3 linked regions of the Homo sapiens genome follow. The protein of the gene in region 3 interacts with the protein of the main gene of each other region in a biochemical or structural test. Each region holds a gene or a part of one and is shown on either strand. Other genes may lie near its edges. The genes, in order: NDE1, KATNB1 and PAFAH1B1.

Region 1 (7,109 bases), on a different chromosome or scaffold from region 3:
GCCACTACGCCAAGCTAATTTTTTTTTTAAGAGATGGGGTCTTACTATGTTGCCTAGGCTGGTCTCAAATTCCTGGGCTCAAGCGATCCTCCTGCCTTGTACTCCCAAAGCACTAGGATTCTAGGTGTGAGCCACCACACCCAGCAAGAAAGCAGACTTCTATTAACAGTTGGGCTAACGGTTTGTATACTCCCTGTTGATAGAGGCTGTTTGATGTAATCACCTATTTTCTGAATTTATTTGAGGCTCTGAGCTTGTCAAAAGGGCATGAGGAATCCAAGTAAGATTGTGTCCAGGCCAGACTCAGTGGCTCGCATCTGTAATCCCAGCACTTTGGGAGGCCGAGGCGGGCAGATCACAAGGTCAGGAGTTTGAGACCAGCCTGGCCAATATGGTGAAACCCCATCTCTACTAAAAATACAAAAATTAGGCGGGCGCAGTGGCAGGTACCTGTAGTCCCAGCTACTCAGGCGGCTAAGGCAGGAGAATTGCTTGAACCCAGGAGGTGGAGGTTGCAATGAGCTGAGATCGTGCCACTGCACTCCAGCCTGAGTGACAGAGCGAGACTCCGTCTCAAAAAAAAAAAAAAAAAAGATTGTGTCCAAGGCCGGGCGCAGTGGCTCACACCTGTAATCCCAGTACTTTGGGAGGCCAGGGCAGGTGAATCACCTGAGCTCAGGAGTCTGAAACCAGCCTGGCCAACACACTGAAACCCCATCTCTACTAAAAATATAAAAATTAGCCGGGCATGGTGGTGTGCGCCTGTAATCCCCACTACTCGGGAGGCTGAGGCGGGAGAATCACTTGAACCCAGAAGGCAGAGGTTGTAGTGAGCCGAGATCGCACCACTGCACTCCAGCCTGGGTGACAGAGTGAGACTTCCTCTCAAAAAAAAAAAAAAAAAAAAAAAAAAAAAGATTGTGTGCAAGGTCCCTTCCTTCCCTCAAGAGAACTTAGAGGCTGGTGTGTATCCCTGGGGACAAAAGAATGAGCAAAAACCATCACTTTCTAAGATATAACCAACAAGCTATATAGTTTTGGTTAAAACATGAAATCATTAGGCTAAACATGTAAGTGTCAACACAGACACCACCACTAACTTCTGGTGGAAGTTAGTGAGCCTCACCCATGTTGAGCCAATGACAGAGGTGGGCCTAATTCATGCAGAACCAGGAAATGCACAATTGTACCTAGATTCAAGCACAAAACTTACCGATAACTCTGCATTTGTTGGGACTCATATTCACATCCTTTCTCCCTCCTACTTTTTCAATCCTTTCCCTCATTCAGAGAAAACATGCTATTTCCCGACCCACTCATCCCTCTGGAAAGCAGATTCTCTGAAAGTTTGATCAAGGCAGAAAGGCGAAATGTCATACAAAGCTGGCCAGACGTGGTGGCTCATGCCTGTAATCTCAACACTTTGGGAAGCTGAGGCAGGCAGATGACTTGAGGTCAAGAGTTCAAGACAAGCTTGGCCAACATGGTAAAATCCTGTCTACACTAAAAGCACAAAAATTAGCTGGGTGTGGTGGCAGGCACCTATGATCCCAACTACTCGGGAGGCTAAGGCATGAGAATCGCTTGAACCCGGGAGCCAGAGGTTGCAGTGAACCACGATCACACCACTGCACTCCAGCCTGGGCAACAGAGCAAGACTCCATTTCAAAAACATATAAACAAAAAATAAATAAATGTCATATAAAGCTAATGATTTGTAGTTTTGCTTGTTTTTTCCAGACATGCATTCATTTTTCCATCTTCTGTGACAGCACAATATTCCCTTGGGAGAATACCCTACTCATTTCATGAGTTCAGAGGGATCTGACATCATCCTCCACACCTGGGAAGAGGCATATGCCTATTCACGACCTTAGTGATCAGCTCATGGGTGGGCCTAACCCACGATGAGCCAGTGACAGAGGTGGGCCTAATTCACGCAGAGCCAATGATAGGGTGAGCCTAACCCCCATGCTCAGCCAGTGACAGTCACGGATCTAACCCATGCTGAGCCAATGATTGGCTTAAGGATGGGCCTAACCCATACTAAGCCAGTGAGGGCCCAGGTCCAGACCTTTTGCATAGCTGTCAAAAATGAAACTCTCTTTCCACTAGGGTTGGTAAGGTAAGCCTGAAGCTGGAGGTAAGCCTGAAGCCGGAGGTAAGCCTGAAACTGCCGGTGGTCATCTTGCTATCACAAGGGAGAGCCTGCCTCAGAGTGAAGCCAAAACAGAGGAAAGCTGGGCCAAGGGATGGAGAGCCTGGGTCCTGACAATATCATTTGAACACCTAGATGCAGCCACACCTGATTTAAGGTTATGAGATAATCAATTCCTTGTCTTGGTTATACCAGTTGGGGTTAGATTTCTGCCACGCAGGAATCTTAATGAATGTATGGAATCAACGACCTTACTTGCTCAAAGTCAAAAGGGTAGAGTGGTGCCTGGCGCAATGGCTCATGCCTGTAATCCCAGCCCTTTGTGAGGCCGAGGCAGACAGATCACTTGAGGTCAGGAGTTTGAGACCAGCCTGGGCAACATGGTGAAACCCCGTGTCTACTAAAAAAACAAAAACAAAAATCAAACGGGCACGGCGGTGCGTGCCTGTAGTCCCAGCTACTCAGAAGGATGAAGCAGGAAAAATCACTTAAGCCTGAGAAGCGGAGGCTGCAGTGAGCCAAGATCACTGCATTCCAGCCTCCCAGCCTGGGCGACAGAACAAGACCCCATCTCAAAAAAATAAAAAGGGGGTAGAGTGTTAATAGCAGTCATTAACAAGGCCAGGAGCAGCATAAACCTAGGCCAAGGAGTCCCTGCTCAAGCCATAAGCTCTAATGAGCCCAGATCTCATGTAATATGTACTCATCAAACCAATTCTATAGCAACAATAGCCCAGGGCCAAGGCATCTATCAATGAGCACTGTGTGGCCATTAAGATATTGGTGGCTGGGTGCGTTGGCTCATGCCTGTAATCCCAACACTTTGGGAAGCCAAGGCGGGTGGTTCACCTGAGGTCAGGAGTTCAAGACCAGCCTGGCCAACATGGTGAAACTCCATTTCCACTAAAAATACAAGAAATTAGCCAGGTGTGGTGGCAGGCTCCTGTAACCCCAGCTACTCGGAAGACTGAGGCAGGAAAATCGCTTGAACCCAGGAGGCGGAGGTTGCAGTGAGCCAAGATCACGCCATTGCACTCCAACCTGGACGACAAGAGTGAAACTCTGCCTCAAAAAAAAAAAACAAAAAAAGACATTGGTGATACTATTGAGGGCAGTCTCAGTCCCATGGTATGGAAGGTTGTCAGCATACAATAAAGTGCGGAAGTGAGGAACCAGTAACAACAAAAGCAGAATGACTCCTCCTGAGGTTTGGAAAAAGATGTGCAAGATCCAATGTGATCAGGCCCCTGCATAGTTTTCTACACATTTCTTACCCTACCACCTCTCATTCACTTATGTCCCAGCCACACTGCCTTCTTTCTCTTCCTTGAACACCCAAGCCTGGCAGGGTGCTGTGGCTCATGCCTGTAATCCTGATACTTTGGGAGGCCACAGCGGGTAGATCACTTGAAGCCAGGAGTTCGAGACCAGCCTGGCCAACATGGTAAAACCCCATCTCTGCTAAAAATACAAAAATTAGCTGGGCATGGTGGCACATGCCTGTAATCCCATCTACTCAGGAGGCTGAAACAGAAGAAACTCTTGAACCCGGGAGGTGGAGGTTCCAGTGAGCAGAGATCCTGCCACTGCACTCCAGCCTGGGTGACAGAGCAAGACTCCATCTCAAAAAAAGAAAAGAGTAATAATAATAATAATAATAATAAAAGAAAAGAGCCTCTTAAAACACTGTTATCTTGGCCAGGAAGGTTTAAAAACTTAATCCTCAGGAAAGAAATGAATCTGAGATGCTTTAGGAGGTGCGTCTATTGTGGGGCAGGTTCTAATTACAACGGGCCAATGGGAGGGATCTGGTTTTGGATTTCAAGGACTGAGGAGAAAATAAGCAGAGAACTGGATTTGTATCACAGCCTGCAAAATCTTTCACTCCAACCAAGAGACAAAAACCACAGGAACAGCATTTCAACCAAAAACTCTTACATTTTAAAAGCAATCCTTAGGGAAGAGAGATGCTGGAAGCAAAGAAGGAAGAAGTAACAGCTGCACTTCACTTTATCATAAAACAGCAATCTTTTTTTTTCTTTTTCTTTATTATTATTATACTTTAAGTTTTAGGGTACATGTGCACAATGTGCAGGTTAGTTACATATGTATACATGTGCCATGCTGGTGTGCTGCACCCACTAACTCGTCATCTAGCATTAGGTATATCTCCCAATGCTATCCCTCCCCCCTCCCCCCACCCCACAACAGTCCCCAGAGTGTGATGTTCCCCTTCCTGTGTCCATGTGTTCTCGTTGTTCAATTCCCACCTATGAGTGAGAATATGCGGTGTTTGGTTTTTTGTTCTTGCAATAGTTTACTGAGAATGATGATTTCCAATTTCATCCATGTCCCTACAAAGGACATGAACTCATCATTTTTTATGGCTGCATAGTATTCCATGGTGTATATGTGCCACGTTTTCTTAATCCAGTCTATCATTGCTGGACATTTGGGTTGGTTCCAAGTCTTTGCTATTGTGAATAATGCCGCAATAAACATACGTGTGCATGTGTCTTTATAGAAGCATGATTTATAGTCCTTTGGGTATATACCCAGTAATGCGATGGCTGGGTCAAATGGTATTTCCAGTTCTAGATCCCTGAGGAATCACCACACTGACTTCTACAATGGTTGAACTAGTTTACAGTCCCACCAACAGTGTAAAAGTGTTCCTATTTCTCCACATCCTTAAAAGTATAAGATTTTTGCCTTTGCCATTCAAAAATGTCAGAGAGAGGCCGGGCACGATGGCTCACGCCTGTAATCCCAGCACTTTGGCAGACTGAGGTGGGCAGATTGCTTGAGCCCAGGAGTTTGAGACCAGCACAAGGTGAACCCCGTCTCTACTAAAAATACACAAATCAGCAGGGCGTCACGATGCACGCCTGTAGTCCCAGCACTTTGGGAGGCTGAGGTGGGTGGATTGCTTGAGCCCAGGGGTTCAAGACCAGCCTGGGCAACATGGTGAAACCCTGTCTCTACTAGAAACACAAAAATTAGCCAGGTGTGGTAGAGCGCACCTATAATTCCAGCTACTTGGGTGGCTGAGGCCCAAGAATTGCTTGAACCCAGAGGCAGAGGTTGCAGTGAGCAGAAATTGTACCACTGCACTCCAGCCTGGGCACAAGAGCAAGACTCTGTCTCAAAAAATAAATAAATAAACAACATGAAAACGTCAGAAAGTTCTATTGCAGTACTCTCTGTGGCAGAAAGCAGGCAACATGACTTGCAAGGGTTCTCTTATTTTATCAGCATTAAGTACTGAATTTGACCTTCTGTTTGCTGTGTGCTAGACATTTCAAAAATTGTTTGCAAACATTATCTTCTTTAAGCTGTGTGACTGTAAGAGATGGCTAAACAGGACAACCACTCTGTTTCTTGGAAGCAGAAACACCGTATGCCTTGGCCATCTCTAAATGTGCATGTGAGCAGCAGAGGCAAACTAGATCCAAGTTCAAGGGATCTTTGCATTCAAGTCCAAGGCTTCCCAGGGGTTGCAAACTGACTGACTGCAGATCAGATTCACTTGTTTCATTTGGTCCAGTTTTGTTTTTTTTTTTTTTGTTTTTTTTTTTTTTGAGTCGGAATCTCTTTCTCTGTTGCCCAGGCTGGAGTGCAGTGGTGTGATCTCAGCTCACTGCAACCTCTGCCTCGCAGCTTCAAGCGATTCTCCTACCTCAGCGTCCCTAGTACCTCGGATTACAGGTGCATGCCACCACGACTGGCTAATTTTTTGTATTTTTAGGAGAGACGGGGTTTCGCCACGTTGGCCAGGCTGGTCTCGATCTCCTGACCTCAGGTGATCTGCCCACCTAGGCCTCCCAAAGTGCTGGGATTACAGGTGTGAGCCATTGCACCCGGCCCTCACATAGTGTTTTAAAAGGCACTGTAATAGGCAAGTGTTAATGCCTGGTCTCAGTATATACAACTTTGCACCTGCTATCTTAAAAATGCACCCCACATGCATTTATTTCATCTGTGTGCCACTAACCTGCGTTCTTAATACGCCACCACACCATCATGCCCCAGCAGCTCTGTAGACAAATCTGATGGGATCATGCAAGGAACAATGACAAACTAGGACCCAGTGGTACAAAAAGTATCTATTTTGCACAACAGAGATCTATGCCTCCTTCAAAAATTTGTTTCCGGCCGGGTGTGGTGGCTCATGCCTGTAATCCCAGCACTTTGGGAGGGTGAGGCAGGCAGATCACCTGAGGTCAGCAGATAAGAGACCAGCCTGGGCAACATGGTGAAACCCCATCTCTACCAAAAACACAAAAAAATTAGCCAGGTGTGGTGATGCACACCTGTGGTCCCAGCTACTCAGGAGGCTGAGGTGGGAGGATCACTTGAGCATGGGAGGCGGTGGTTGCAGTGAGCCGAGATCGCCCCACAGCACTCCAGCCTGTGTGACAGAGCGAGAACCCGTCTCAAAAAAAAAAAATTGTTTCCACATGCTTTTTTTTTTTTTGCATGTTTTACATGATTAAAGCTAACAAAAAAGTCTGAAAATACACTCGAGACACACACCTCTGATTTTAAAACTCTGGAAAAAAGCAAAGCAATCTCTTTCAGCTTTCCTCTGAGAGAAGAAACCCAGCACTGCTAGTCAGGAGCAATAAACATACAGAAACCATCGATAATTACTCAACACCCTTCTCCATCCCCACTCCATATCCTTCCCAATCAAAACAAACAGAAGAGCAGGAGGGAAGAGAAAGAAGCTGCCAAATGTCCACACATGCTCCGACAGCCAGGACGCAGGCTTTGCATTTTGCAGGAGTGACATCACTGGGGCAACATCAGTCAAGAGTCAGCAAGCCTGGCTTCTGTCTTTGTGCTTTCCAAGTTTACAATGATCAACCTACAAAAATACTTAGGCAGGCAAGGACCCATGTTCAAAGATGCACACCATCATTCACGAATGTGGAAAACTGGAAACCTC
Region 2 (7,109 bases), on a different chromosome or scaffold from region 3:
AGGAGGAGCTTTACTCTTCTGGCAGAGAATTTGGGGATGAATGAGTAATATGGACATAGAAAACACACAGATTAAAAAAAAAAAGGAACTATTATTAACTCCAGGGAAACCAAGTTATTAAAAAGAAATAGTCAGTGGTAAATGACACTTATGCGTCCTTACATTATAAACACCACCTATTGAAATGGTGCTACTGGGAGGGTGGGAGGAGAAACACGAGCCATGGGGCTGGGAGTGGTGCCATGAGAGAGCTAAATTCTCATCCTTTACAGTAGGAAGAGAATAACTAATGTGTTAACTTTTTTTTTTTTTTTTGAGATGGAGTTTCGCTCTTGTTGCCCAGGCTATAGTGCAATGGTGCGATCTTGGCTCACCACAACCCCCACCTCCCGGGTTCAGGTGATTCTCCTGCCTCAGCCTCCCAAGTAGCTGGGATTACAGACATGTGCCACCACACCCGGCTAATTTTGTATTTTTAGTAGAGATGGGGTTTCTCCACGTTGGTCAGGCTGGTCTCGAACTCCCAACCTCAGGATGGGGTTTCTCCACGTTGGTCAGGCTGGTCTCGAACTCCCAACCTCAGGTGATCCGCCTGCCTTGGCCTCCCAAAGTGCTGGGATTATAGGCGTGAGCCACTGCGCCTGGCCACGGTGTTTTTTAAATAAGAAAAGAAAGAAACTGTGGTATGACCATGTGGTCTAGAAAGGTGGAGGCGATCAGCAAAGCACAGACGAAAGCACAGAAAGTTTAGGCTCATGGAGAATGGGAAGGAGTGGGGCAGAAGTTTCCTCTTTCCATTGAAATTAATTGTAGAAATACTGGTATTTGAGGTTTTAAATTTTAGGCTATGTACAACTTCTATACAGATGAAAACTAAATTAAAACAGAGCACAAGGAAACAGATCTGGCCATTCCAGGCTGCCTCTAATGGCACCAGGGAGCCAAGGCAGAGTGGGGACCACCTGGAGTCAGGGTACAAGCTCCCCGGTTCTTCATGGCTGTCCCACGCAGCCACCTCACTCATTCATGTGACCTGCAGGGCCCCTGGCGGCATGTGACATCCCTCTAGGTTCTAAACACACACACACACACACACACACACGTGCCCGCAGACACACACATCCAAACACACATACATCCAAACACACACACACACACACCCGCACATCCCCCCACCCACACGAGGCAGCAGTGCATGTCAATGCCAGGCTAATGGGGGTGGAGTGGGTGCCACACTGCCGGGTTAGTGCTCCAGGAGCAAAGCAGCCAACGTAGTCCAGGCAGGCTTCCTGGAGGAAGCAGTACAACTGCAGAGCCTGAAGACTAAGGCAGGTGTGCGTGCACAGGAGGCAAGCTCGGAGGCCTACTTTTGGCAGCTTCCAGGTCCCAGACACGGATGGAGCCCGACTGAGAGCCGGCCACGATGAGCTCCTCGGGGGTGTTGAGGCGGACGCTCTCCACTGGGGATGTGTGGCCCGTCAGGCTCTGTGGAGAGAGAGCAGCAGCTTCCGTGCACTGCTGGACAGACCCCTGCAGTTGCGCCCTGAATTCCAAGTCCCCCGGAAAGGCTTCAGCAAGAAATGGCTAAGGCAGGAGGGGGAGCCCCATGGGGGCCACAGCCTAGCCCTCCTGCAGGCCCTTTCTGAGCACCTACTCCTCTCGGCCTCAGCTCCCAGGGCTAAGAGTGGCCAAACCCCAATCATCCCCCCACCACCTCCCTCTTCCCTGCTGTGCTTCTGACATGGGCGTCACCTGCAGAAATGGCCCTGGGCCCCTTGGAGGGGAGCGACTGGACAAGATAAAGGGATGCTGTCCCTTCAGCCCTAAGTTAAGCAACCCTGCCCCCGCTCTGTTCCCATCTTCACTCTGCCCCAGGCAAGCCCCTCAGCGAGGTAAGCCACAGCGGAACCAAGGCCTGCCTAGTCCTGGGCACACATCTCGCCCCTCTAGAACCCCTGGCTCTCCCTGACTGCCCATCCCCGTGGAAAGGAGAGGGCTGTGGCGGTTGGAGGAGGGTGGAAGACTTTTCACTGTGGATCCTCTATCTTTTGGATGTTGAACAGAATAAGTGTATCCCATACTCAAAAATAAAAATAAATCCAAGTGGACGGCCTGCAGGGGGACAGCGTGCACAGAAACCCCAAGGGGAGAGAGACCCCGGCAGGCTGGAGGCACTGCGAGGCCTGGGAGGCTGGTGTGTGTGAGCCAGGGCAGGGGCCCGGGGTGAGGCCGGCTGGGGCCTGACAGCTGCACCTGGCGTTCTAAAACAAGCCTGCAGGCCAGGCCCCAGACGGTTGGCCCCGTTTCTCTGGGGGTCGTGGCATGTCCTATTTTTGGTCAGTCATTGGTGATGCTTTTTCAACTTGTGTATGCTACTACTTTGGCATTTCATGGGGGTAGAAAACACATTTGAATCCTAGAAACAAAGTAAAACAAAACAATTCAATTCATCATTACTGACCCCTGGCACCCTTGCTGAGGCTGGGGTGGATCTCAGTTCTCCCCCTGGATCTCAGAAAAACACTGAGGTGATTAAGTTTCTACTAAGAAATTCATCCTTTGCCATATTCTTTTTCTTTTTCTTTTGAGATGGAATCTTGCTCTATCACCCAGCCTGGAGTGCAGTGGCACCATCTCGGCTTACTGCAACCTCCGTCTCCCAGGTTCAAGCGATTCTCCTGCCTCAGCCTCCTGAGTAGCTGGGACTACAGGTGCCTGCCACCACGCCCGGCTAATTTTTGTGTTTTTAGTAGAGACAGGATTTCACCATGTTGGCCAGGGCGGTCTCAAACTCCTGACTTCAGGTGATCCACCCGCCTCAGCTTCCCAAAGTGCTGGGATTACAGGCGTGAGCCACTGTGCCCGGCCTATTCCTCTTCATCTTTATTTCACCAAGAGTCACAACAATGATACTCCCTGGTTGGCAAGGGATGGGGGTTGGGGCAGGGAGGAAAGGGCAGGTTCCGATGCTGCTGGTGAGAATGTAAAATGATTTCTGGGGGGCAATTTGGCAATCTGTTTTGAAAGCTTTAACAAAAGCACACACCCTTGGATTGAATGCAGTGATCACGGATCTGCTCAAGGATCTAGGTGGCTGAGGATGTTCACCACAGGGTGCTTTAGCAGAGCCAAAAAAAGCCGGAAACAACCTCTCTGCTGATAACAGGGTGTGGCTAAGCTAATTACGGCTCATCCCTACAATGGAACACCATTAAGCCATTCAAAATTATGTTGTAAAAGAATACTTGTTGACACAGGCAAATCCTTACAACATTGTTATTTTTAAAAACCAGGCTGCACAAGAGTGGCAGTGTATTTTTATTTATGTGTGTGTGCTTGTATGAGTATTTGTGTGTATACATGTGTACATGCATGTACAAGTGTGCACTTACGTGCATGTACACGTATATGTATCTGTCTCAGCATCTAGAAGGACTCACACCAAAACACCAACTGTGGTGGCCTTTGGATAACGGAACTATATGTAGTTAATTTTGTGTTTTCTCCTTTATGCACTCCTATTTGGAAAACAGTTTCCAGCATTGAACATATAGCTGCATAAATAGTGGGGAGATGCTATTTAAGAACTAGCTCCCTAACCAGCTCCAGCCAGGTCCCCTCAAATCCTCATTGGGGAATGAAGGCTGGGAATGAATTAAAATAAACGCCCACATGTTGCTGCCAGGCAGGCAGATGGGCAGGTGGGAGGGGAGGGGTACAAGTCTTTTGGCTCAACCACAGGCCCAGGGCTTATTTTAATCTTCTCACGCAGCCTGCCTGGAGTTCTTAATAGTACCACAGGCAGGTGACTCCCTCGCTCCTGAGGGCTGGCCACTGTCCCAGCCATGCTGGGCTGTCCTGGGCCTCACTGAGCAGACAGCTGGGGGAAGCACTGATGGTGTCCCCACCACGCCCCCTCCACCCCTGAGCTGGGCCCCAGCGGATAGGGGGCCCTGGGCTCAAGAGAGTCTGAGAAGCTGCTCACTCTTCAGCCTCCAACCCCTGTCCCCGTCCCCTCCCCAGGCCCTTGTCCTGACCCCCCGCCAGCTGTCGGGGCTCACCATGATGCAGTTGGGCTTGTTGATGGACCACAGGTTGACGCGGCAGTCATCCCCGCCTGTAGCCAGCAGCCGCCCGGAGGCTTTGCCCAGCACCAGTGAGGACACGTTGCTGGCATGCGCGACGATCTCTTCTACACAGGGAAGGAGAGGGAGAGGCCATCAGGGCGGCCCGATGGGGCCTTGTGAAGGAGGGGTGACCCTGCTCGGCTACCCGCTTTGGAACCTGAAGCCCAGTGGAAGGATCTGCCTCCTTCAGCTCCCCCTTTGGTGTCCACCATGAGCTGCAGGACCAGCAGACAGGGCAGGGCATGGGCCTGAGACGGAAATCACTGTTTCTCAACTTTCATCATGCCTGTCTTTCCTACCTTTAGACTTCACGATTTTCTTCCTGTTTCTGCATATCACCTGGTAATATTGACTAGTTATACGCAATTTTTAAAATTGACTTGCTATTTTTATTAGCTTGGGCTTAAGCAATGTCCATGAAATTACAAGTTTGATATACTCATGATACTCTTTCTATGATACAAAAAGAAAAACAATTATTGAAATAAAAAAAATTGACCCATGCACTGCCTACACACCTCTCAGCTGCTGCTTGTGTGTACATACAAACCCTGCTTTGGAGAACACACTTTAAGAACAACCGAAGTCACCTCTAGACAAGCTGCCCCCAGGTAAGCCTGCACAGGGCTTCGGCTCAGATTCACAATCACGGATCAGGTTCTGGTCTGAGGTCTGTGATCTGCTATTGCGTGGCCTTGGCTACTAGGTCACTTGTCCTCTGAGGGCCTGGCTCCTCGTCTGGAAAGTGGGGATGCCCGTGGTGTCTGCTCACACCTGATGCTGAGGACTCCCTCAGAGCGCGCCTACGTGCTGCTTAGTAGCAGGCGAGGGCTCCGTGACATTGGGCAGGCTCGGGGCTAGTCACCATGAGAGAGTGGGCATGGGGGCCTGGGCGGGCACCAGAGGGTGGGCTTCATGAGGAGGGGGCAGGAGGCAACAGACTGAGCAGCTGGGGTGGGGGTGAGGGCTGACCACACAGAGGAGGAGCCTGTGCAGACAGCCCAAGGCCCTGGCCTGGTCCGTGGAGATGGCAGACAGGAGCCTCGGAGGACTCCGCAGGGAGCAAAGCACAGGCAGGGAACCAAGAGGCGGCCCGGGCCTCAGAACCCATCCCTGCATGAGCTCCTCCTGGAAAGAAGGGAGAAAAAAGACAGTTCTCCCCACACAGGCCAGGGGAAAACCCCAAGGTGCTGACGCCCCGAGGCACCCGGAAGGCCAGCGTGGGTGACGCCAAGGAAAAGGGTGTTGGAGCCACGGCGCTCCACAGAGGCCCCTCCTGCACCCCAGCTCCGACTCCACCCTGCCTGGGTGTCTCTGCTGCGGGCTTCAGACCACAAGGAGGTTGGGAAACTGGGCCCAGGGAAGCTGCTTGCCAGAAACCTGGGCTCCAAGGGGCCACCAGGAATACCCAGGGGACAAGTCGCAGGCTGAATCTCACTGATGACACCCTGCCTCCTGGGCCGGTCGGGGCAGAGCCAGCACAGGCAGCAGCGCCAGCAAGGGCGAGGGTTCCCTGTGGGCCCAAACCTGGGCCAGGGCGCTGGGAGTTCGCCATGGGGATCCCAGGGAGCTGGGCCCCACTTTAGTCCCGTCTCGATGAGAGCCTTCTGTCCTCTGGACACTGTCGGGACAGAAACCTGAGGAATTCCAGCCACAGACGTGTCTGTTCAAGGTTTCCACCTGACCCAGAAAGAGGGCAAAGCACCTTCTCCCTGGCATTCCGTGCCCGAGCCTGGTGTCCTCTCCGTGGAGGCACTGCTCGCTCCCCCTGGCCTACCTGGAGGGCTCTGTCTGTCCCCTGGCCCTCACTCCTCCCAGGGAAAGTGTCTGGCTGGGCCCCACCTCACTGGGCCTCAGGACTGCTGCCCCTGGAGTCAGGGGCATTCATTCATAATATCAGTATTTCCTGGGTGCCTGTTCTAGGCCTTGCACGAAATATGCCCCAGTATAATCAGATGGTGGTGGGGGCGGGACACTGAGCTGGCAAAACCGCAGACTTTGGAGTGAGAAAGATTTAGAAGTTGGGCCCTTCTGGAGGAGCCCACATCACTCCCCTCTAAGCAGCCTGACCAGGGACTGACTGGAGCCCACAGAGGGAGGGCAGAGGGGCAGGGACACAGCACAGGCACCTGCAAAGGAGGCACGGGGCACCACCCCAAGAGCTCCTCCTTCATCCTGGCTTGTTGGACAGCAACCAACAGCCCAGGCCGAATACTTGATTTTCATACCAAAAATAAAAAATAAAAATCCTCAGTGTCTACTGGCAGGCCAAGCTCTGGGAGTACAACCTGGGCCCCACATCCAGCCAAAGCTGGGGAACATGGTGCGGCGTGGCCAGAGGGGCTGAGGATCAGCATCCCAAATGCAAGATACAAAGTACTAGGTTTCAACGACCTCATGTGGGCCACGCACCTCTGATCCTCACCAGACCCTGGAGCCACAAGGAGCCAGAGGTCACGTGGCCCTGGGCTCTTCAGAGTTGATTCCCACGGACACCACCGTGCACATGAAATCAGCAGCAGCAGCAGATGCCCAATACGCCTGATCTCATTACCTCCTGCTCGCACACACTGATGGCTTGGCCTTGCCTTTATGATAAAGCACGGCAGCCTCAGGAGGGCTGGGGTCCTGAGAACTCAGTAGGTCCGTGCGGCCCCACATTCCTCCTGCTGCTGTGCCACTGCCCATGGCCTCCCTTGAGTCCTTCCAATACACTGAGCCTCCTGCCTCAGGGCCTTTGCACTTGCTGTTCATGCAGCCTGCAGCATTCCCACCCCACCCCTACCCCTACCCCCCAGCTAACTGATTCAAAGCACAGGCACCAGCTTGCAACTAGAGGAGACACAGAGGGATACGGTTATCCAGTTCCTGCCTGTTGCTCTCCCCAGGCTCTGAGCTCCCGCTGTACAGAGACCTTGACTACTTTGTCCCCCAGTGGCTCCCCAGTGCCTAGCTCTGGGGAAAGGCCAGCTGTCGAAGGGA
Region 3 (7,109 bases):
AAAAAAAAAGAATCTGGAGAAAATTTCAAATTACCCAATGTCAATCAAGATTTTCCCCCTTCTTATGAAATTGAATAAAAACAAAAATGTGTGTGTGTATACATATATACATACTTTTTTTTTTCCTTGAGACAAAAGTTTTGCTCTTTTTGCCCAGGCTGGAGTACAGTGGTGCAATCTCAACTCACTGCAACTTCTGCCTCCTGGGTTCAAGCAATTCTCCTGCCTCAGCCTCCCAAGTAGCTGGGATTACAGGCATCTACCACCACGCTCAGCTAATTTTTTTATTTTTAGTAGAGACGGGGTTTCACCATGTTAGCCAGGCTGGTCTCGAACTCCTGACCTCAGGTGATCCACCTGCCTCGGCCTCCCCAAGTGCTGGGATTACAGGCGTGAGCCACCGCGCCTGGCCTGTATTTTGAAAAATACAAAAATTACCCAGGCATGGTGGCGCGGGCCTGTAGACCCAGCTACTCAGGAGGCTGAGGCAAGAAGACTGCTTGAGCCCAGGATTTGCAGAGTTGTAGTTAGCCACTGCACTCCAGCCTGGGCAACAGAGCCAGACCCTGTCTCAAAAAAAAAAATCATTCTTTTGTCAAAATGTATTCACTGCACTCTGTTCTGAGATACTACAAGTTGCTCTAGACAGAGAGGACAGCAGGAGTAGAATCACAAAGATCACAAAGTGGGGAGGGAGAAAGCATATATATATTAGAGTGTGAGCAAGGTGGGGCTTGATTAGAAATGAAACTTGAAGTGACTGAAGACCTAGCAAACTGTGTTAAAGTATGTGGACTATAGGAAAGAGGGAGTCAGCACAGTACGGTGGCTGAAAGCCCCAACTGTGGAGCCTCAGTACCTGAGGTTCAACTTTCAGCTCTGCTACTTACAAAGCTGTCACAAAGGGCTAGCTAAATTCTCCCAGAATGTTGTGAGGAGTAAACGAATACTTGTAAAGCACTTAAAACAGAGCCTGGCGTATTAGTAAGTGCTATGTAAATATTTGTTAAATAAATACAAAGGGAGCCAAGGGAGGGTTCTTTTTAAGTAGGGAAGTGTGATATGGTCAGATTGCATTTTAGATAGATGACTGGGGACTATGTAGCAGAAAGACGTTAACCGGACAAGACTGAATTTAGAGAGACGATGTGAAATTAGTTGGGTAAGAGATTATGTGAACTATGATGGTAGTAGTAGTAATGGTAAGTATGGATAGAAGGGGACTAACTCAACAAATATCGAGGAGGTAAAATTGGCAAGACAAGGTAATTGATTGGATATAGAGGAAGAAAGAAGAGTCAAGGTTGAGTCCCACGTAAAGTATTATTTCTAATGTTTTTAAAAGTAATATTCTTCTAAGAACTTTGGATCCTAGATGTCTTCTGTGCTAGTGACATTTGATGTCTTGGGGTTGTATTATGATGCTTCCATAAAAATGCGAACCACAGGCCTGTTTAAACTCTCAAATTGATAGGCCCTCGCTGTTTTGTTTTTTTTTTCAGTAGGTGGAGATAATTTCTCTTTAAGGACATACCATTATACAGAACACTTATTTAGCCCAAGTCGAAGAGCCAGAAAGCTTGAATAATGATTTTATTAAGTGGGGTTTTTTTTTATCTTTACGTTGGGATTTGTGATGATAAAGACTATAGCATCATGGTAATACTGTAAAAATTTTTAAGTGACTGCTGAACCATTAAAGACAAATTAAAATTTGTTAATTCTGTTATTTCCAATTTTTTCACTGTTCATTCATATATGATAAACTTTGATAACCAGAATATTTCATTACTTATTGATCCCTTTGACAAATCTTAGCTCATTTCTACATTTGTCAACTTTAAAAATATTTTTTCTTAGGCTGAGAGCAGTGGCTCATGCCTGTAATCCCAGCACATTGGGAGGTAAAGGTGAGCAGATGGCTTGAGGCAGTTTGCTTAGGCTAGGAGTTTGAGACTGGCCTGGGCAACATGGCAAGACCTCACCTCTTACAGAAAATAGAAAAATTAGGCCGGGCGCCGTGGTGCATGCCTGTAATCCCAGCACTTTGCGGGGCCGAGGCAGGAGGATCACCTGAGGTCAGGAGTTCAAGGCCTGCCTGACCAACATGGTGATACTCCATCTCTCCTAAAAATAGAAATATGAGCCAGGTATGCCGGCAGGCACCTGTAATCTCAGCTACTCGGGAGGCTGAGGCAGGAGAATTGCTTGAATCCAGGAGGCAGAGGTTGAAGTAAGCCAAGATCATGCCATTGCACTCCAGCCTGGGCAACAAGATTGGGAGACTCCATCTCAAAAAACAAAAATTAGCCAGGTGTGGCTGGGCACGGTGGCTCATGCCTGTACTCCTAGCACTTTGGGAGGCCAAGGTGGGCAGATCACGAGGTCAGGAGTTCGAGACCAGCCTGGCCAACAGAGACCCCCCATCTCTATTAAAAATACAAAAAACTTCACTGGGCAGGGTAACAGATGCCTGTAATCCCAGCTATTCAGAAGGCTGAGGCAGGAAAATCACTTGAACCCAAAAGGCGGAGGCTGCAGTGAGCCAAGATCGCAACACTGCACTCCAGCCTGGGCGACAAGAACGAGACTCAGTCTTGAAAAATAAATAAATAAATAATAAATAAATATTCATGTATGAGTTTAGTCAACAGCTTATTTCATTTTCTCTGACAATGCTAAATGTATAGCCTTTCCTCACCCATAAAAAGTTAACCAAGGCCAGGCATGATAGCTCATGCCTATAATCCTAGCACTTTCAGACACTGAAGTGGGTAGATCACCTGAGGTCAGGAGTTCGAGATCAGCCTGGCCAATATGGCGAAACCCCATCTCTACTAAAAATAAAAAATTAGCCAGGTGTGGTGGCACATGCCTGTAATTCCAGCTATTACTAGGGAGGCTAAAGCAGGAGAATCGCTTGAACCCAGGAGGCGGAGGTTGCAGTGAGCCGAGATCGCGCCACTGTACTACAGTCTGGGCAACACAGCGAGAGTCCGTCTCAAAAAGAAAAACTTAACCAAAATACTAAATAATCAAAACATCTGACTCATTTATCTCCATCTTCTTTCTTTTGTAGTTAGCATATTTTTTATAAAATAAAAATATGAAAAGAAATAGATAAAACACTAGTATATCATAGAACATATTCTTTCTTTTTTTGGTTTTTTTTTTTTTTTTTTGAGATAGTTTCACTCTTGTTGCCCAGGCTGGAGCGCAATGGCACGATCTCGGCTCACTGCAACCTCCGCCTCCCGGGTTCAAGCAATTCTCCTGTCTCAGCCTCCCAAGTAGCTGGGATTACAGGCACCCACCACCACACCTGGCTAATTTTTGTATTTTTAGTAGAGACAGGGTTTCACCACATTGGCCAGGCTGGTCTGGAACTCCTGATCACCTTCTGCCCGCCTTGGCCTCCCAAAGTCCTGGGATTACAGGCATGAACCACAGTGCCCAACCCATAAAACAAACTCTTCTATCTTTACCTTAGATTAAAAATGGATTGGGCTGGGTGTGGTGGCTCACACCTGTAATCCCAGCACTTTGGGAGGCCAACTCGGGTGGATCACTTGAGGCCAGGAGTTCTTTAGTAAAAATACAAAAATTAGCTGTCTGTGGTGGTATGTGCCTGTGGTCCCAGCTACTCGGGAGACTGAGGCAGAAGAATCGTTTGAACCCAGGAGGTGGAGGTTGCAGTGAGCTGAGATCGAGACACTGCACTCCAGCCTGGGTGATGGAGTGAGACTCTTACCTCAAAAAAAAAAAAAAAAAAAAAAAAAGGTTAAAAATGGATTAATCTGCACTGTAAAATTTTAATAAACATATAACTTTCTACAATGCTTTCAAAAATTAAATTTATTAAAATGTTCAAAGATTCTTAATTTTACTTTTGTAAAAAGTCTCAGAAAATTTTTTAATGGCCTCAGTTAACTGTCAATTCTTGTCAACATAAGAGCCCCAAAAGCAGATAATCAAAATGTATAGGTAATTTGTCCAGTTGAGTTAATTCACTTTTTATACTTAAGAATTCTGTCAAAGTGTAACCCTGTTCCCTCAGAGAATATAAAATCTCTGTATACGAAATGCAGCCACTCTTTCCTCCATCACCTTAATTCTCTTGAGATCACCGGAGTCAACTATTACAAAGATCTTTAGGATAGCACATTTCCTTTCACATAACCATTCAGTCAAATGCAACTAGTACTTATTCACTTATTAATACTATCTGTAAAGCAGTATTAGGCATTTTTTGGGAGAAGCTACTCAAATGCCAAAAGCCTTATGCATGCAAAGCAGTCAACAATACAAGACCATATGTTAATAAATGCCAATTTAAATGATGCAGGCAATAAATACCACCAACTTTCACCATTTAACAAAGATTAAGGAGTCCAATCGTTATAGAAAGAAGGAATGTGTGATTTTACAAAGCAGTACCCAAGAGTTCTGTGACTGCAATATTTACCTTATTCTAGTCACTAACCTAACATTCGACAGGAAAAGAAATTCTCTGGATTTCAGTTCTCTCATCCATAAAAATACCAATCTACCTCAAAAAGTAGCTGGCAGAAGAACAAATGAAAATCAGTACCAAGCTCAATATTTAGAAAGTTCTAGAGAAACGTTTATGACAATGTTAAAAGACAATAGAGAGTACCATTCCAGAAGTATCCTTGACAAATGCAGATTAGTCCTATCTAGGTAAGTTTCAACAAGAAGCCACCATCTTTTAAAAAGAAAACAAGAAATAAAATAATAAGTGCTTATGATGCCTGCCACCAATGAATATAAAGCATTTCATAAATATCAATTAAATTCTATGACTGCCATGCCAAGGTTAAAAATTACATATGTAACAGAAGTTAAACTAAGGTTCCATTTCAATGACTAGCCAAAAAGTGCCATGCCAAACCAGCAACAAAGAACAATCCAAAAAGCCTTCACTGCAGTTAACTATTACGCTTACATAATACAGCATCTTTCTTCATGAAATACAGATTTCTCAAAATGTTTGACCTTCAATGACGAGGATTCAATTTACAGCTAAGCATCTTCTGGAGAACGGTAGGTCTGTCTTTTTTTCAGAACTCGTATTGTATACCACTAGTTTTATTTTAAATAGAACAACTTTCTAAGTAAAAAAAAAAAAAAAGTAATAGTTGTACTGTAGATGACATAATAAAAACAGTGGCAAAGAATTTCCACTTCAAAACTTAACTATTTCCCTCTTTCCAAAGCACATAAAAATAAGTTACCTGTCATAATGAAATATTTTCGTTAACAGGGACTTAGAGGCAAGTAAAAAATATTTTAGGACCACAAGCAGAAATGGCCAGCTTGGTTTAAAACCAACCGAGCCTCAAGTCCCTTTGGCAAAAGAGCGCATGACTCACTGCTTTAGAACTCAATGGGAAGATATTGAAAATTCACTCTGCCCTAATATTTTGCTTTGGGTTTTTTAAGACATCTTCATCTTATTTTTATTTATTTATTTATTTTTTGAGATGGAGTTTCGCTCTTGTTGCCCAGGCTGGAGCGTAATGGTGCGATCTCGGCTCATTGCAACCTCCACCTCCCGGGTTCAAGCAATTCTCCTGCCTTAGTCTCCCCAGTAGCTGGAACTACAGGTGTGCGCCACCATGCCCGGCTAATTTTTTTGTATTTTTAGTAGAGACGGGGTTTCACCATGTTGGCCATGCTGGTCTTGAACTCCTGACCTCAGGTGATCCACCCGCCTCGGCCTCCCAAAGTTCTGGGAGTGTAAGTGTGAGCCACCATGTCTGGCCAGACATCTTCATCTTAATGTTGACAATTTCTATAGCATCCATGACTTATTCACAAAGATGACAAATTATGAATAACATGAACCACATGTAAACAAGAGGGTCTTATTTTTGCTGGATACTTAAAATATAAGCCATAAAGTCTCATATACGCAGACAGACAGACAGACACACACACACACACACTTTCTGTCTCTCTGTTACTTAGTATACAACTGAGAGAGAAACATTTATATTATTTTTAAAAAATAGAAAATAGGGAAGGGTGTGGTGGCTCACATCTGTAATTCCAGAACTTTGAGAGGCAGAGGCGGGCGGATCACGAGGTCAGGAGTTCCAGACCAACCTGACCAACATGGTGAAACTCCATCTCTACTAAAAATACAAAAATTAGCCAGGTGTAGTGGCAGGCACCTGTAATCCCAACTACTCAAGAGGCTGAGACAGGAGAATCGCTTGAACCCAGAAGGCAGAGGTTGCAGTGAGCTGAGATCACCCCACTGCACTCTAGCCTGGGCAACAGAGCAAGACTTCCCCTCAAAAAAAAAAAAAAAAAAAAAAAAAGACACGGATGTTCTAGCTAGAAAAGCATAAATTATGATTCTGACTTTTCCTTCCCAGAAACATCTCAAAATCTCTTTACACTAGAGATATTTTATCTGGAAAAACAGGTAACAAAAAATTGTACTAAAAAATTCCTTCCAATCTCATTAAGAGTTCTATACAGAACTATGAATAATTTTAAAAATTAATCTCCAAATTAAGCCTAAGATTCTCCAACATGTATCAAGAAACACTACATACACTTGGAACTAAAGCTCCTTAAGTCAAATTATCTTAAGCTCCTGATTAACAACAATCTACTGAAAAATCACCACTCAGTGTGTGGGGTTTTGTTTGTTTGTTTTTGACAGAGTCTTGCTCTGTCGCCCAGGCTGGAGTACAGTGGCACGATCTCGGCTCACTGCAACCTCCGCCTCCCGGGTTCAATCTATTCTCCTGTCTCAGCCTCCCCAGCAGCTGGGATTACAGGCGCATGGCACAAGACATGGCTAATTTTTTTGTATTTTTAGTAGAGACGGGGTTTCACCATATTGGTCAGTCTGGTCTCGAACTCCTGACCTCAGGTGATCCACCTGCCTCGGCCTCCCAAAGTGCTGAGATTACAGGCGTGAACCACTGCACCTGGACCTTAGTGTGCTTTGATATTCTACAAACAGTAGGAATAGGGATATGTCAGACACATAATACAGTGAATTATCATTCCCAACCTTACTCATTTCCTCACCATAATAACCCTTCTACTTTCTAATCATATTAAAAAGA

Evidence for each region.
Region 1: the proteins of PAFAH1B1 (region 3) and NDE1 form a complex in vitro, tested with the Homo sapiens proteins (one study listed by BioGRID).
Region 2: the proteins of PAFAH1B1 (region 3) and KATNB1 form a complex in vitro, tested with the Homo sapiens proteins (one study listed by BioGRID).

The regions. Positions count from the first base shown.
Region 1 is NC_000016.10:15,653,233-15,660,341, reverse strand, and holds part of NDE1 (nuclear distribution protein nudE homolog 1), read right to left. Parts: intron 1-7,109. UniProt on the Homo sapiens protein: Required for centrosome duplication and formation and function of the mitotic spindle. Essential for the development of the cerebral cortex.
Region 2 is NC_000016.10:57,738,770-57,745,878, reverse strand, and holds part of KATNB1 (katanin p80 WD40 repeat-containing subunit B1), read right to left. Parts: intron 4,193-7,109; coding exon 4,062-4,192; intron 1,486-4,061; coding exon 1,368-1,485; intron 1-1,367.
Region 3 is NC_000017.11:2,596,642-2,603,750, reverse strand, and holds part of PAFAH1B1 (platelet-activating factor acetylhydrolase IB subunit beta), read right to left. Parts: intron 1-7,109. UniProt on the Homo sapiens protein: Regulatory subunit (beta subunit) of the cytosolic type I platelet-activating factor (PAF) acetylhydrolase (PAF-AH (I)), an enzyme that catalyzes the hydrolyze of the acetyl group at the sn-2 position of PAF and its analogs and participates in PAF inactivation.